2 linked regions of the Homo sapiens genome follow. The protein of the gene in region 1 purifies or fractionates together with the protein of each later gene. This does not show direct contact. Each region holds a gene or a part of one and is shown in the gene's direction. Other genes may lie near its edges.

Evidence for each region. The genes of interacting proteins can lie anywhere in the genome.
Region 2: the proteins of UBE2G2 (region 1) and HNRNPAB purify together in Homo sapiens (affinity purification with mass spectrometry; 2 studies listed by BioGRID, with this or other methods). This does not show direct contact.

The regions. Positions count from the first base shown.
Region 1 is NC_000021.9:44,784,815-44,791,832, reverse strand, and holds part of UBE2G2 (ubiquitin-conjugating enzyme E2 G2), read left to right. Parts: intron 1-3,737; coding exon 3,738-3,773; intron 3,774-3,867; coding exon 3,868-3,913; intron 3,914-7,018. UniProt on the Homo sapiens protein: Accepts ubiquitin from the E1 complex and catalyzes its covalent attachment to other proteins. In vitro catalyzes 'Lys-48'-linked polyubiquitination. Involved in endoplasmic reticulum-associated degradation (ERAD).
Region 2 is NC_000005.10:178,199,876-178,207,545, forward strand, and holds the start of HNRNPAB (heterogeneous nuclear ribonucleoprotein A/B), read left to right. Parts: upstream 1-4,657; 5' UTR 4,658-4,865; exon of another isoform or gene 4,866-4,939; 5' UTR 4,940-4,962; coding exon 4,963-5,171; intron 5,172-5,966; coding exon 5,967-6,135; intron 6,136-6,856; coding exon 6,857-7,015; intron 7,016-7,218; coding exon 7,219-7,350; exon of another isoform or gene 7,351-7,670. UniProt on the Homo sapiens protein: Binds single-stranded RNA. Has a high affinity for G-rich and U-rich regions of hnRNA. Also binds to APOB mRNA transcripts around the RNA editing site.

The DNA.
Region 1 (7,018 bases):
GCATTGAGTGTCTTTGGCTTTTCTAGGTGCACAGTGCAAAGCTCTTGGTGGATCTACCGTTCTGGGGTCTGGAGGATGGTTGTTCTCTTCTCACAGCTCCACTAGGCAGTGCCCCAGTGGGGACTCTGGGAGCTCCAACCCCACATTTCCCTTCTGCAATGCCCTAGCAGATGTTCTCCATGAGGGCCCTGCCCCTGCAGCAGATTTCTGTCTGGACATCCAGGCGTTTCCCTACATCCTCTGAAATGTAGGTGAAGGTTCCCAAACGTCAGTTATTGAATTCTTTGCACCCACAGGCCCAACACCACGTGGAAGCTGCCAAGGCTTGGGGTTTGTACTCTCTGAAGCAACAGCCTGAGCTGTACCTTGGCCCTTTTTAGCCATGGCTGGAGCTGGAACAGCTGGGACACAGGGCACCAAGTACCAAGGCTGCACAGAGTAGCAGCGGGGCTGGGCCTGGCCCACAAAACCATTTTTCCCTCCTAGGCCTCCCTGCTTGTGATGGGAGGGGCTGCTGCCAAGATCTCTGACATGCTCTGGAGACATTTACCCCATTGTCTTGGCGATTAATATTTGGCTCCTTGTTACTTATTTGAATTTCTCTCCAGAAAATGGGTTTTTCTTTTTTATTGCACCGTCATGCTGCGAAGTTTTCAAACTTTTATTCCCTGCTTTCTTTTAAACACGAGTTCCAATTTCAGATCATCTCTCTCAAGTTCAAAGTTCCACAGATCTCTAGGGCAGGGGCAAAATCTCACCATTCTCTTTGTTGAAACATAGCAAGGGTGACCATTGCTCCAGTTCCCAAGAAGTTCCTCTTCTCTTTTTCAGACCACCTCAGCCTGGGCTTCATTGTCCATGTCACTATCAGCATTTTGGTCAAAAGCATTCAGCAAGTCTCTAGGAAGTTCCAGACTTTCCCACATCTTCCTTCTTCTAAGCCCTTCAAACTGTTCCAACCTCTGCCTACTACCCAGTTCTGAAGTTGCTTCCACATTTTCAGGTTATCTTTATAGCAGTACCCCTGGTACCAATTTACTGTATTCATCTGTTTTCACACTCCTATAAGAACTTCCCTGAGACTGGATAATTTATAAAGGAAAGAGGTTTAATTGACTCACAGTTCCACATGGCTAGGGAGGCCTCAGGAAACTTATCATGACAGAAGCCGAAGGGGAAGCAAGCACCTTCTTCACAAGGTGGCAAGAAAGAAGAGTGAAGGAGGAACTTTCGAACACTTATAAAACCACCAGATCTCATGAGAACTCACTGTCATGAGAACAGCATGGAGGAAATTGCCCCCATGATCCAGTCACCTTCCACTAGGTTCCTCCCTCAACACCTGGAGATTACAATTCAAGATGAAATTTGTGTGGGGACACAAAGCCAAACCATATCAATGGACATTTGGGTTGTTTCCAGTTTGGGGCTATTACGAATTTAGCTACTATGAACATTCACACAAAAGTCTATGGCAACATAAGACCCAGTAGAATTGCTGGGTCTTAGAGTCAATATATATGTAATTTTAGTGGAAATGGTCAAACTTCTTTCCCAAAGGGTAACCAAACCATTTTGCATTCCCATCAGTGGTGCATGAGAGATCTACTTGCTAAACTTGCCAGCACTTTAAGTCTTTAATTTTGGCCATTCTTTTGTGACTAAAGATACTGATAATGCTGAAGCTATTGAGCTGTATCTTATTGTGGTTTTAATTTGCATTACCCTTATGATTCACAATGTTGAGCATTTTCTCATGTGCTTATTAGCCATCTGTTTTAGTCAGTTCAGGCTGCTGTAAAAAAATACCAAAGACCAGGGAGCTTAAACAACAAACATTTATTGCTCCCAATTCTGGAGGCTGGGAAGTCTGGTGAGGGCTGTCTTCCTGGTTTGCAGATGACTGTCTTCTCCTTGTGCCCTTACATGGCCAGAGGCAAATCTCTCGTTTCTTCTTATAAAGGCACTAACTCCATTCATGAGAGTTCTGCCCTCCTGACCTAATCTCCTCCCAAAGGTCCCACCTCCCAATACCACATACATTAGGATTCAACATAGGAATTTTGGGGGGACGCAAGCGTTTGGACCACAGCATCATTCGTGTTGACTCTGACAGTGGCTCTTTTCAACTCTGCCTCCATTTTTCTTCTTACCTATTTTGATTTTTATATGTGGTGTGAGATGGGGAAAGTTTGATTTTTTTTTGTCTTAGAGATGAGCATCATTCATGGAAAAGACTGCCCTTTGCCTCTGGGCCATAGCTCTGTGTTCCCTCGAGTCAGGGTCTCTGTTGGTACAGGTATGCTTCTGGGCTTTCTCTTGTGCCCCATTGTTCAATTTAACTTTGAGCCAGTGCTACGTTGCCTTAATTTCCATAGCTCTGTAAGGAAGGCTTGGTAACTCATAGATGAAGCTTTCTGTTTATTCTTTTTTTTTTTTTTTTTTTTTGAGACAGAGTCTTGCTCTGTCACCCAGGCTGGAGTGCAGTGGCGCGATCTCGGCTCACTGCAACCTCCGCCTCCTGGGTTCAAGTGATCCTCCTGCCTCAGCCTCCCAAGTAGCTGGGACTACAGGTGCATGCCACCATGCCCGGCTAATTTTTCTATTTTTGGTAGAGATGGGATTTCGCCATGTTGGCCAGGCTGGTCTCGAACTCCTGACCTGAGGTGATCCACCCGCCTCGGCCTCCCAAAGTGCTGGGATTACAGGCGTGAGCCACCGCGCCTGGCCCTCTGTTTATTCTTTTTAAAGATAGTGTCTTGGCTATTCTGGATTGTTTGCATTTTTATATATCTTTTAGAAAGATATATATATGCCTCATATTCAGCAACTGTGCCAAACTCACTTTTACTAATTATCTTTAGATTCTTTTGGGCTTTCCTGTATATATGGACATAGCATCTGTGAATAATGAGTTTTATTTCTTTTTCAGTCCTTATACCTTATATTTATTTGGCAAGGATTTATTAATTTTCTGTCTCTTCAAAGAACCACCTTTTGGTTTCATTGATTTTTTTTTTTCTGTATGTTTGCTTACTGTTTTATTAATTTCCCCAGTCTCACTCTGGTTGCCCACTGGACTCCAGCCTGGGCAACCAGAGTGAGACCCTGTCTCAAAACTAAGCAACAAAGTAACCAGCAGGAACAGTTTGGAAAGACAGTGTACCCCTTATGTTTGCTTTTGCATTTGTAAAAAGAAAAAGAAAAAGAAAAGTCTATGTTTTGTTGGTATAAAGAACTATTTGGGCCGGCGCGGTGGCTCATGCCTGTAATCCCAGCACTTTGGGAGGCCGAGGCTGGCGGATCACGAGGTCAGGAGATCTAGACCATCCTGGCTAACACGGTGAAACCCCGTCTCTACTAAAAATACAAAAAATTAGCTGGGCGTGGTGGTGGGCGCCTGTAGTCCCAGCTACTTGGGAGGCTGAGGCAGGTGAATGGCATGAACCTGGGAGGTGGAGCTTGCAGTGAGCTGAGATCACACCACTGCACTTCAGCCTGGGTGATAGAGTGAGACTCCGTCTCAAAAAAAAACAAAAAAAAAACAAAAAAACTTTGTGTAGTTGTTATCAGAACCGTTATTGTACTAGGTATTCACTTTGGGCAAACAGAATTTTCACTTGTTAATATGCATATTCTATGGTTTATAGGCTTATATATTTTGTAAAGGTGTTTTGTTAAAATGACAATGTAACATTTATTCTGTTTGGTAATGGTTTTACTTATTAATTTTATAGAATTAACACTGAATCCTCCGGAAGGAATTGTAGCAGGTAAGGTACCAAAGTTAACTTCCTTATAATTTACTTTTAATTGCCAAAGTTCCTTCAAAGTTAAAATGTTGTGAAATTTTTTCTCACCCTACAGGCCCCATGAATGAAGAGAACTTTTTTGAATGGGAGGCATTGATCATGTAAGTTAATTTTAGGTGTACTAGTTTTTAGGGCTTTGCTGGAAGTCAGATGTAAGAATCACATCAGCAGTGTGACTGTGTCCAAAAGCATCAGCTGGAAAAAAGACTGAGTTCTCCAGTAATGCCCAGCTCTCGTCTAGGCTGCTGGTCTGAAAGCAGAGAACCTGAGCATTGATCCAAAAGAAATGAGTGTTTCCTTAGAGCCAGTCAAAGGTTTAGTTATAATTATGTAATATATGTATTATATATTTGAGAGTTTTAAGGTGGTAATTTTGGAATGTTGTATGATCGTGGTTAAAATAACCTCAAATGGCGTAGGTGGCTTTGGCTTCCAGAAGTAGCCCCTTCAGGTGTGAAATTTTGACGAGAAAAGGGTCCTCAAAGATGTGTCTGACCACACCAGGCATGTTAGCGCAGCCTTGCCTGCCCTGCCTTTGGGCCAGGACTTCTTTTTCTTCTCCTTTCCTCCCAGTTCGTATCTTCGTGTGCTGCATCTCCTTTTTCTGTTGCCTTGTCTGGACTTGTTGGCCTTGTGTTCTTTCCGACCCAAGACATGGCTTAGTAAGTGAGCAGTGTGGTTCTGGGATTCGTGGCATTTAACTTAGGGTGACGTTGCTTGGAAAGAGAAACACATGGACCCCTGATTTTAGAGTGTTCTATGGCCTTGACTCACTTTGCTTTTTCTTCTTTCTACCTTAGATGTGCAATTTTTGGCCATTCTTAGTGTATTTTCAGCAAAGTGAGGTTAAATAAAATTTAGGAAGTTGAAATTTGTAATCAGTCTCTGTTTTCTTTCTTTTCTTTTTCTTTCTTTCTTTTTTTTTTTTGAGATGGAGTTTCGCCCTTGTTGCCCAGGCTGGAGTGCGGTGGCACAACCTTGGCTCACTGCAACTCCTGCCCCTTGGGTTCAAGCGATTCTCCTGCCTCAGCCTCCCTAGTAGCTGGGATTACAGGTACCCACCACCGTGCCTGGCTAATTTTTGTATTTTTAGTAGAGACAGGGTTTCCCCATGTTGGCCAGGCTGGTCTCGAACTTCTGACCTCAGGTGTTCCGCCTGCCTTGGCCTCCCAGAGTGCTGGGATAACAGGTGTGAGCCACCGCGCCAAGCCCAGTCTTTGTTATCTCATTAGTGAGGTCTTTTAATTTGCAGCAAGGTCTTGGGTTGGATTTTGTTGCATTGAGAAGTGCTCTAGAGGGCAAGGACCGGAAAAGTGAGGGCTGTGAAACAAGTGTGGGCTCTGGCTTGAAGTGATCTTAAGCTTCATGATGCTTTTGGAATTCGCCAGTTGCTTGGATCACATTAATTCTTAATGCTCTATGGGTTGGTCTGAGAAACAGATTGCAGCTAAGTGTTGTCTGTGGAGGTTAAATTGATATGAAAATTAGTATTTTGGATAAACAAAATGTTTTTAAAAAATCATCAAACGCTATTCAGATGGTACAGCACGCCTGCCATTTCCTGATCATTTGTAATATCCTAATTGCTTGGGCCTATGGCACATGTTTTTTCGGTGTCTGAAGGTTTCTGGAATCTGTGTTTGTGTGTAATGTGGCCCCCAAGGCAGTTATGAGATGGATGGCGAGTCCCACAGTCTGGGCTGTCCTCATTAGTGGACTGTGCGGCTGTATACTTGTATCGGGGCAGCTCTTTTTATTTCTGTAGAAGCAGGAGATCATATACATGAACTGATGTGTAACCTGCTTGTTTCATGTGTTAATGCAGGCGCACCTGCACTCATGCCAGCGGGGCAGCACGCCTGCTGCAGGGGCCCAGAGTGGCGGGAGGCCTGTCTGTGTGTAGAGGTTGAAGGCGCCTGTCGTGTCTGCAGTTATTTGTGGGGTGTTGGCTCCTCCGTAGGCCTATTTGGAAGCTCATTAAAGGAACAGTTGAGCCGTCCAGTGTGGTTTTAAAAAAATGTTCATTGTTAAAAATCGATTAGGGTAACTATTACCAATTTTAAATAAACAGTGTAAAATTAAACCAATATTTTGAAAACCTGTCTTAAAAAGTAATTAGAACTATTTTTAGGTAGAGCACTTCTGTGTTTGAACAAGGCTTTTTGCATTAGTTTGGAATTCCCCTGCTTGAAGATCCTAGTGAGTTTGTGGGTTTTGGTCCTGTTCCAGACCCTTCACAAACAAGAGGCCGTTTACAAGTGCACTTAAAATGCCTATTAGGGAATTAACTGTCCTCCCATCGATTTGTCTCACCCTGCTATTTTGGCAGACATCTGGCCAAGTCTTTGCTCCTTGGTGATAAGTTTCTTCTTTTTCTCTTTATTCTTTGATGGCTTCCAGGGCCGCCTCTCTACCCTAGTATTTCTAAAACCCGTGCTTGCCTCACAGAAGTCGAACGGCTGTTGGTTTTTGCTGTTGTGCTTGCCTTAAGGGCCAGTGAAGAAAATGTCATTTTAGATATCTAAGCAACAAACACTAAGTGCCTTTGATATGTTAGGGCCCTTGTCTGAAGATACAGACATGTCAAAGATGCACTGAAATCTTTACCTTGGAAGACCAGGGTTGAGGGATTAGGATGGAGAATAGAACAGATTAGTGAATGAGAGGACTAAATAATGAGAGTCCGCAGGCTGTGTCTTTAAACACCGGGAATAACTCTGCTGACCCTGCCACGCTCATGGTGGAGTCTGAGCCTGCAATCAAATCGAGCGTGGCTGGGATGGCGGCACACCAGGGGATGTGGCCACCGTGGCTGTGGGTGCTAGCATGGCCTGCTGCTCTTGGCCCAGTCACTTTGCCTCTCTTTGACTTATTTGGATCAAAACAGAGAGGTTTATCAGCATCTTCTAGACAGATGGTTACAGGTCTTGCCCAGCTCTAGGGTCCATGGCCCGTGACCCCATTGCCACTAAGCCACGGTGACGGGGGTGTAGCTGCAGAGAGGGTGGGTGCCCTCTTTCATTGATGCACTTATGTGGGACAGAAGGAGTCCTAGACAGCTGTTCATCCCCAGTGGCCGGACAAGGCGTGGAGTCCCTTGGCGCTTGCTGTCCTCTGTGTCCTGCCCCAGCATTCCCAAATCAGCTGGCTTGGTGACCTTCTTGTCTGGTTCATGCCTGACTGCTGTCACCTCCCCAGACCAGTGG
Region 2 (7,670 bases), on another chromosome or scaffold:
CTACAGTTTGAGAGAAAAAAAAAATCCCAAATCTCAGTGCCAGGCCCAGTACAGGTTCATTTTCAGCTTGTGTCAAATCTGATGTGGGCCGAACAGCTCTTCTCCATGAGGTAGCTCAGCCGTGTAGAACACATGGTCGCGGGGTGAAGGGAAGTCTGGACAAGGCCCCCAGTCTCCATGGCCCCAGCCTGAAAGGAACTCTTCCACTCACAGACCACACAGCAGGGGAGGCTGGCAAGGTGGGGGCACAGATTTCTGGGAGCCCCAACTGTCTGTCCCACTCGTATTCACCCGAAGTCAAGGCTAAGACTTCATCCTGACAGCACTGGGAAGTCAGCCAGGGTTTTCACACAGAGGTAGTGACAAGATGGGACTTGCATTTTCAGTTTTTCCTTTTTTCACTGTAGCTCTCAGATCTTATGACTTGTGTTTTAGAAAGATTCATCTGGCTAGAGGACTCCTCTGAAGCAGGGGAGCTGGAGTTTGGTGGAGCGGGGAAAGTGGCTGCAGCGGGAGTTGGCCACAGCAGAGGCACGATATATTTGTAGTTAACTCATGCAACTTCCACCTTGCAGGCTCAGCCAAAAAACCGAAAAAAAGAATGTGAGAAAAATCAATTCATGTAATTAAAAAACAATCCAAAAGCATTTTGTGTATGTCCTTTCCTAGATTGGAGATTGTCCACATTTTATGCATATATTCTGAATAGCCCAAACCCAGGGAGTGTATACTCTATGGGCCTTTTAAGAGATTTTCAGGGGTAACTGAGCTCCTGGCTGACTTGAGAACCTCACTGTCATGGAATTGCCCTCTACTCAGGGTCTGTAACTGAACCTAATAACAAAAGTAGGGAGGCTTGTGTCAAAAGGACTTCCTGCTGTTTCCCAAACAGTGTGGTGCCTTGCCTCTGGCAGAAACACCCTTGGATACAATATGAAGGCTTTATTTATTTATTTATGTAATTTCATTTTTTTGAGACAGAGTCTGGCTCTGTCCCCCAGGCTGGAGTGCAGTGGCACGATCTCGGCTCACTGCAAGCTCTGCCTCCCGGGTTCACACCATTCTCCTGCCTCAGCCTCCCGAGTAGCTGGGACTACAGGCGCCCCCCCACCACGCCCGGCTAATTTTTGTATTTTTAGTAAAGACAGGGTTTCACCGTGTTAGCCAGGATGGTCTCGATCCGCCTGCCTCGGCCTCCCAAAGTGCTGGGATTACAGGCGTGAGCCACCGCACCCGGCCCGGCATTTTTTATTTTTTGCTGAGACTGACCCCTACCTGCCTGCAGTTCTTTCTAGTTTATGAAGTGTTTTCTAAGCCATTACCTTATTTGAGCTTCAGGATTCTTTATTTATTTATTTATTTATTTTGAGACAGAGTCTCGCTGTGTCACTTAGCCTGGAGTGTAGTGGTGCGATCTCGGCTCGATGCAACCTCCATCTCCCAGGTTCGAGTGATTCTTGTGCCTCAGCCTCCCGAGCAGGGGGGACTACAGGCCTGGGCCACCATGCCCAGACTTTTTTTTGTATTTTTAGTAGAGATGGGGGTTCCACCATGTTGCTCAGGCTGGTCTCAAACTCCTGGCCTCATGGGATTCTCCTGCCTTGGCTTACCAAAGTGGTGGGATTACGGGCGTGAGCCACCACGCCCAGCTGAGCCTCAGAATAAATTAGATCTTTGATAGGAGATCTAATTTACATCAAGGAACTCAGAAGCTCAGACACACCTTGTCCCACAGTAGCCAGGAGCCCTGGAAACAATCCCCAATGTGGAGTTGGACGTGTTGGTTTCATGGCCACAGTTTTAGCTGTGGTTTCAGTATTCTTGTGTATAAAATATGGGTAACTGCACAAAGCTATTTTGAAGCTCCAGTAAAGCAAGGTTGGTGAAAGCATTTTGCAAACTGCTAAGCGCTGTCCAAATGTTGTATCCTCAGACTTTACACGTCACTGAAAGTGTTTCTGAGTCGTGCTAAAGAAATCCACGTGGAAGATTAAGGGAATTTATGCCTGCAGTAATGTCTTTGGGCTGCACCTACACTATTTGACTTTGAACTTAATTTCCTGAATTACCTTCACTGCTTGGGGAGCTGTGCCCATCATCTCCTGCAGGCCACAGCCCTGGCCCTCATTTCTGTGGGTTGGCAAGGGCTGGGGTGGAGGTGGGGTGAGCAGTTTGTTAGAGACCGCCCTGAAAGCCTTGCTGCCAGATCTCAGTGACATGAGTAAGGTCGTGTGGAAATATGTGACTTCCTGTTATGGAATTAGCCTGGGACAGTGAAGAGTGGCCTTGGGGTGAACCAGAGGGCACTTGCCCACCTGGGTATGGGTATCCCAGCTGCACTTGATTGTTACTTTGGGGGAAGGCAGTACAGTGTGAGCTAAATCTTCGGACTTTCCTAGAGAAGCCTGAAATCCACGTATCTTCATTTTTCATTCTCAGGGCAACTCCAGTGCCTGGGTGGAGTTAGTGCCTGAGTTGGTTGTGTAGCTTTGGGCCGCTGCTCTTGACTTCAGTTTTCTCATTTAAAATTGGTGATCCACCTGAGATCAGGAGTTCAAGACCAGCCTGGTCAACATGGTAAAACCCCATCTCTACTAAAAATACAAAAATTAGCCCGGCATGGTGGAACACACCTGCAATCCCAGCTACTCAGGAGGCTGAGGCAGGAGAATCGCTAGAACCTGGGAGGTGGAGGTTGCTGTGAGCTGAGATGGCTCCACTGTACTCCAGCCTGGGCGACAGAGCGAGACCCCCGTCTCAAAGAAAAAAAAAACCTGGTGATCTAGCTGGGCAACATAGGGAGACCCTGTGTTTACAAAAAATTCGCTTGGCGTGGTGGCCACGTTTCTGGTTCCAGCTACTTGGGAGGCTGAGGCAGGAGGCTCATTTGAGCCCGGGAGGTTGAAGCTGCAGTAAGCCGTGATCGTGCCACTGGACTCCAGCCTGGGTTACAGAACAAAACCTTGTGTCAAAAAATAAAATAAATAAAATTGGTGACCATACCACCTTACTTTGGTTGTTAAGATACAGAAGAGAAAATGGAATGCCCAGCCCACCACACTGGTCCTGGCTGCAGGAATCCACTGGAAACGCTAGTTCCTTGTGTTCTGGGTTGCTATTTGGTAACCTGCAGGCTCCAGAGGTTGTAATCCTGCTTGCCTTGGGGCCCACCACCCATATGATTAAAAGGAATAACGGGATTACCGAGGCCTTTAAAATTTTGTGGTCAAGGAGATAATATAAAGGAGTTTTGTGTATTAGGAAGAGAACAACGCCCCCACCCTGTCCTTTACCTCGTGAGTTCACGAGTGGTGTATTTGTTTTGTTTTGTTTTTGAGACGATGTCTCGCTCTGTCGCCCAGGCTGGAGTGCAGTGGCGAGATCTCGGCTCACTGCAAGCTCCGCCTCCCGGGTTCACGCCATTCTCCTGCCTCAGCCTCCCGGTAACTGGGACTACAGGCGCCCACCACCACGCCCGGCTAATTTTTTTGTATTTTTAGTAGAGACGGGGTTTCACCATGTTCGCCAGGATGGTCTCGATCTCCTGACCTCGTGATCCGCCCGCCTGGACCTCCCAAAGTGCTGGGAGTACAGGCGGGAGCCACCGCGCCCGGCCTCCGTATTTGTTTAAAAAAAAAAAAAAAAAAAAAAAGGCCGGGCGCGGTGGCTCACGCCTGTAATCCCAGTACTTTGGGAGGCCCAGGCGGGCGGATCACGAGGTCAGGAGATCGAGACCATCCTGGCCAACATGGTGAAACCCCGTCTCTACTAAAAAAACAAAAAAATTAGCCGGGCGTGGTGGCGCATGCCTGTAATCCCAGCTACTCGGGAGGCTGAGACAGGAGAATCGCTTGAACCCGGGAGGCGGAGGTTGCGGTGAGCCGAGATCGCGCCATTGCACTCCAGTCTGGGCGACAAGAGCAAGACTCCATCAAAAAAAAAAAAATAATAAAAAGGAAGAAAAAGAAAGACAAATGATTTACAGGAAAAAATTTAAGTAAACAAAAGTACAAATGCGATGTCAATCGTTCAGGTGGTGCCAGGGGACAGAGAACCGGGGAACACCAAGGTCTCATCGTCCCTGCAGAGCATCTCTGGGGGAGGCGACGGACAGGGCGCGAGCGCGGGGCTTGGAGGGCACCAAGGTCCAGGGGGATGGCGGGTTCAGTCCCAATCCCTCCGACCCGTGCTGAGGGCCTTGGAGGACCCCACTCGCCCAACCTCGGAAGCCCGGGTTCTGCCACTTCCAGCCACGCGTCCTTGGGCTGCGAAACTTTCTCCAGCCCAGTTTCCTCTTTTGGGACATGGGGAGGCGGAGGCTGCCAATGCTGGGATGGAGTCCTCGAGAGCAAGAGACCAGCGGCCTCGACGAGCTTACAATCCGATTAGGCCCTCCCACCGATGTGCTGTAGCTGCCCGCCGCCCTGGACCCGGCGCCGTCCCGCCCGGCTTCGGGAGCCCTCCGTAGCGGCCGGACTCGCGCGCGTTCTAAAATGAGGACAAAGCCCGCCCAGGTCTAGAGCGCGCGCGCCGTGGCGGCCAATGGGACGCTGAAGCTAGGTTGAGTGACGGACTTGAGCAGCCAATGAGTGTGCAGTTTGTTGCGATGTGGCACCCGGCTCCGGCATTATAAAGGGCGCCACGAGTCGGCATTGTCAGGCGGCGGCACCGCGCGGGACGGAGCTTGGCTGTTGGTCGGTGGGTTCCCGTGCGGCGGCGGCCAAGGAGGAGGAGACACAGTTGGAGCAGCTCCGTGGGCTGACTGGGGCGAGGCCTCAGCAGCGCGAGCTTGAGTGCGGCCGAGCCTGCGGCGCCTTCCCCTGCGGGTGGGGACGAGCGGGCCCCGCGGCGTCATCGGCGGCGAGGTGAGCGGCGGCCGGCGGGCGGGAGCTCTGGCGGGAGCCGCGCCGGCCTGACGCGCTGTCGCCGCTGGTTGCAGGAGCCGCCGCGCCTCGGCCTAGCATGTCGGAAGCGGGCGAGGAGCAGCCCATGGAGACGACGGGCGCCACCGAGAACGGACATGAGGCCGTCCCCGAAGGCGAGTCGCCGGCCGGGGCTGGCACGGGCGCCGCGGCGGGGGCTGGAGGCGCGACCGCGGCGCCCCCGAGCGGGAATCAGAACGGCGCCGAGGGCGACCAGATCAACGCCAGCAAGAACGAGGAGGACGCGGGGTAGGTGCGGCCGCGGGCGGACGGGGGCGCCGCCTTTGTTCCGGGGCCGCCTTTTGTTGGCGCCACGCGGCGGGGGGAGGGGCGGCGGCCTGGCCCGGGTCGGGGCTGGTGCGGCCCGCGGACTGTCGCCGCTGCGTTCGCGGGCCGGGCCTGGCGCTGCCACTCGCGCTGGAGTTTGCGGGAGTTTGTTGGGTCGACTTTGGCGCCGCCCCGGGGCCGCTCGCGCGCTGCCAGGGCCAGGGCCAGGGCCGGAGCCGGCGCAGGGGCGGGCGGATGGCCCGGAAGAGGGAAAGCGCTCGGACCCGGGGCCCGGCGGCGTCTTGGGCCGCGCCGGCGGCTGCGTGGGCGGAGTTGGCGCGAGCCGGGGCCCGGACCTCCCTCCTCCGCCTCTCCCGGGGGCGGAGTCACGGTCTGAACCCTGGGCGGGCTTGGTCCCCGGAAACATCGAGTTCCTTGAAACGAGTTCTCAGGAGTTGGTGGAGACGCTGGCCCTTTGCTACATGGTTGTAGAACACATGAATTTCCAGTTATGAGTGGTTAGGTCCCATACCCCTGGTGAGGTGGTCCCTTCTTTGCTTCTCACAGGCTGGGGCTGCAGAGCCTTGTTAAGCCTCGTTAGGGTCCTGGTTGAGTTCAATTTGGAGGGTAGTGGAGATTTAACATCTTTCTAAGGTGCTCCTTGCAGACTCTAAGGGTAGCTGTAGACTTCGTGAGAACTTTGCCAGGGCCAGTCCTTTCCAAAATCACAGCTTGCTTACAAGACTTGTTGCCGTGTGTCTCACCCTACCATTTCAGAAAAATGTTCGTTGGTGGCCTGAGCTGGGATACTAGCAAAAAAGATTTAAAAGACTATTTTACTAAATTTGGAGAGGTCGTTGACTGTACAATAAAAATGGATCCCAACACTGGACGGTCAAGAGGGTTTGGGTTTATCCTGTTCAAAGATGCAGCCAGTGTGGAGAAGGTAAGCTGGGTACTGGATTTCAGCAGTCTCAGTGGAAACGATTTGAATTCTAAGAGGACACCTTTCTTAAAGCATGACTAGTTTGTGTGGTCTGCATGTGATTTAAGTGCTTTGGGCAAAACCCAAAGCCGGAGGTTATGTTCCGGTTTTTGAGGGGATGAAAATACAGATTAAGCTGGGAGTGAGAGAATGTGCTGGAGTGGTTCGGGAAGATGACAGTTGACATTCATTACCTTTTATGTGCCTATTCTGGGTACGGCGCTAAACATCTGGGAGGATTACAAGAGAGTCCATGATTGGTATGATAGGCTTTTAGCCCCATTTTACAGGACAAAAACCAAAACCCTAAGGCTCAGAAATGTAAGTAGAAGAGGTCACAGCTAGTAGGGAGTGGAGGGAGGATTCCTTCCCCTGTGGCCCATCTTCAGCCTATGCTCCGAGTCCCTGCTGCTTCGCTTCTGGAGATGGGCCTCACGCTGGGACTGCTTGGGCAGGAAGAGCATGATCAAAGGCTTAAGTGTGAGGACTGTTTTCTAGGTGTCGAGGTAAACCAGCTGTACTTGAGGTTTGATGAAAATTGGGTTGGGAGGTTAAGCTGGGGTAGAATTTGGAGGGGGTGAAACACATGTTTGTATCTGTACTGGTGTCTTTATGGCTTAGAGAGAAGGGCCTTGTCTGGCTCGTGCTGCTGAGTCAGCCTGACCCCTTTCTGTTGGAACAGGTCCTAGACCAGAAGGAGCACAGGCTGGATGGCCGTGTCATTGACCCTAAAAAGGCCATGGCTATGAAGAAGGACCCGGTGAAGAAAATCTTCGTTGGGGGTCTGAATCCTGAAGCCACTGAGGAAAAGATCAGGGAGTACTTTGGCGAGTTTGGGGAGGTGAGTGTGGCTCTGGGAATAGCCCATCAGCTGCCCCTAAGGCTGCCTTCTTTCTGGTCCTTGGTATCCTTGGCTGGCTAGACCCTCCCAGGCAGGGCTTATTTTTCACCCTCTGTCTTCAATGGGGTCTTTTCTCCTGTGAGTCCCCTATATGCTCTGGGGTAGGGAGGTATTGGGCCTGAGTTTGCCTATGCTTTTTGCAGATTGAGGCCATTGAATTGCCAATGGATCCAAAGTTGAACAAAAGACGAGGTTTTGTGTTTATCACCTTTAAAGAAGAAGAACCCGTGAAGAAGGTTCTGGAGAAAAAGTTCCATACTGTCAGTGGAAGCAAGGTAAGGTGTTCCCAGCTCTGCTTGGCCTCCTGTGCTGCTGGAGAGCTGGCCCTTAGAGGGATGGGTTAGGGGTTGGGCCTCATGCAGGAGCTCTCCAGGTTGGTCAGACTTTACTATTTCTCTGAAGCGTATGCTGCCCTGATTGGGGCAGTGTTCCAATCCTTGAAAGACTTCTCAGGCTGGGAGGACTGCCAATAAACAACACAGGATGTGAGGGAGGTAGGAGAAGGTGGCCTCTGTGAATAGAGCAGGTTGAGTAGCCTCTTTAGCTCCTCACTTAAAGCTAGAGGTGACAGTTCTAGATTCTTGAGTCCAGGGGT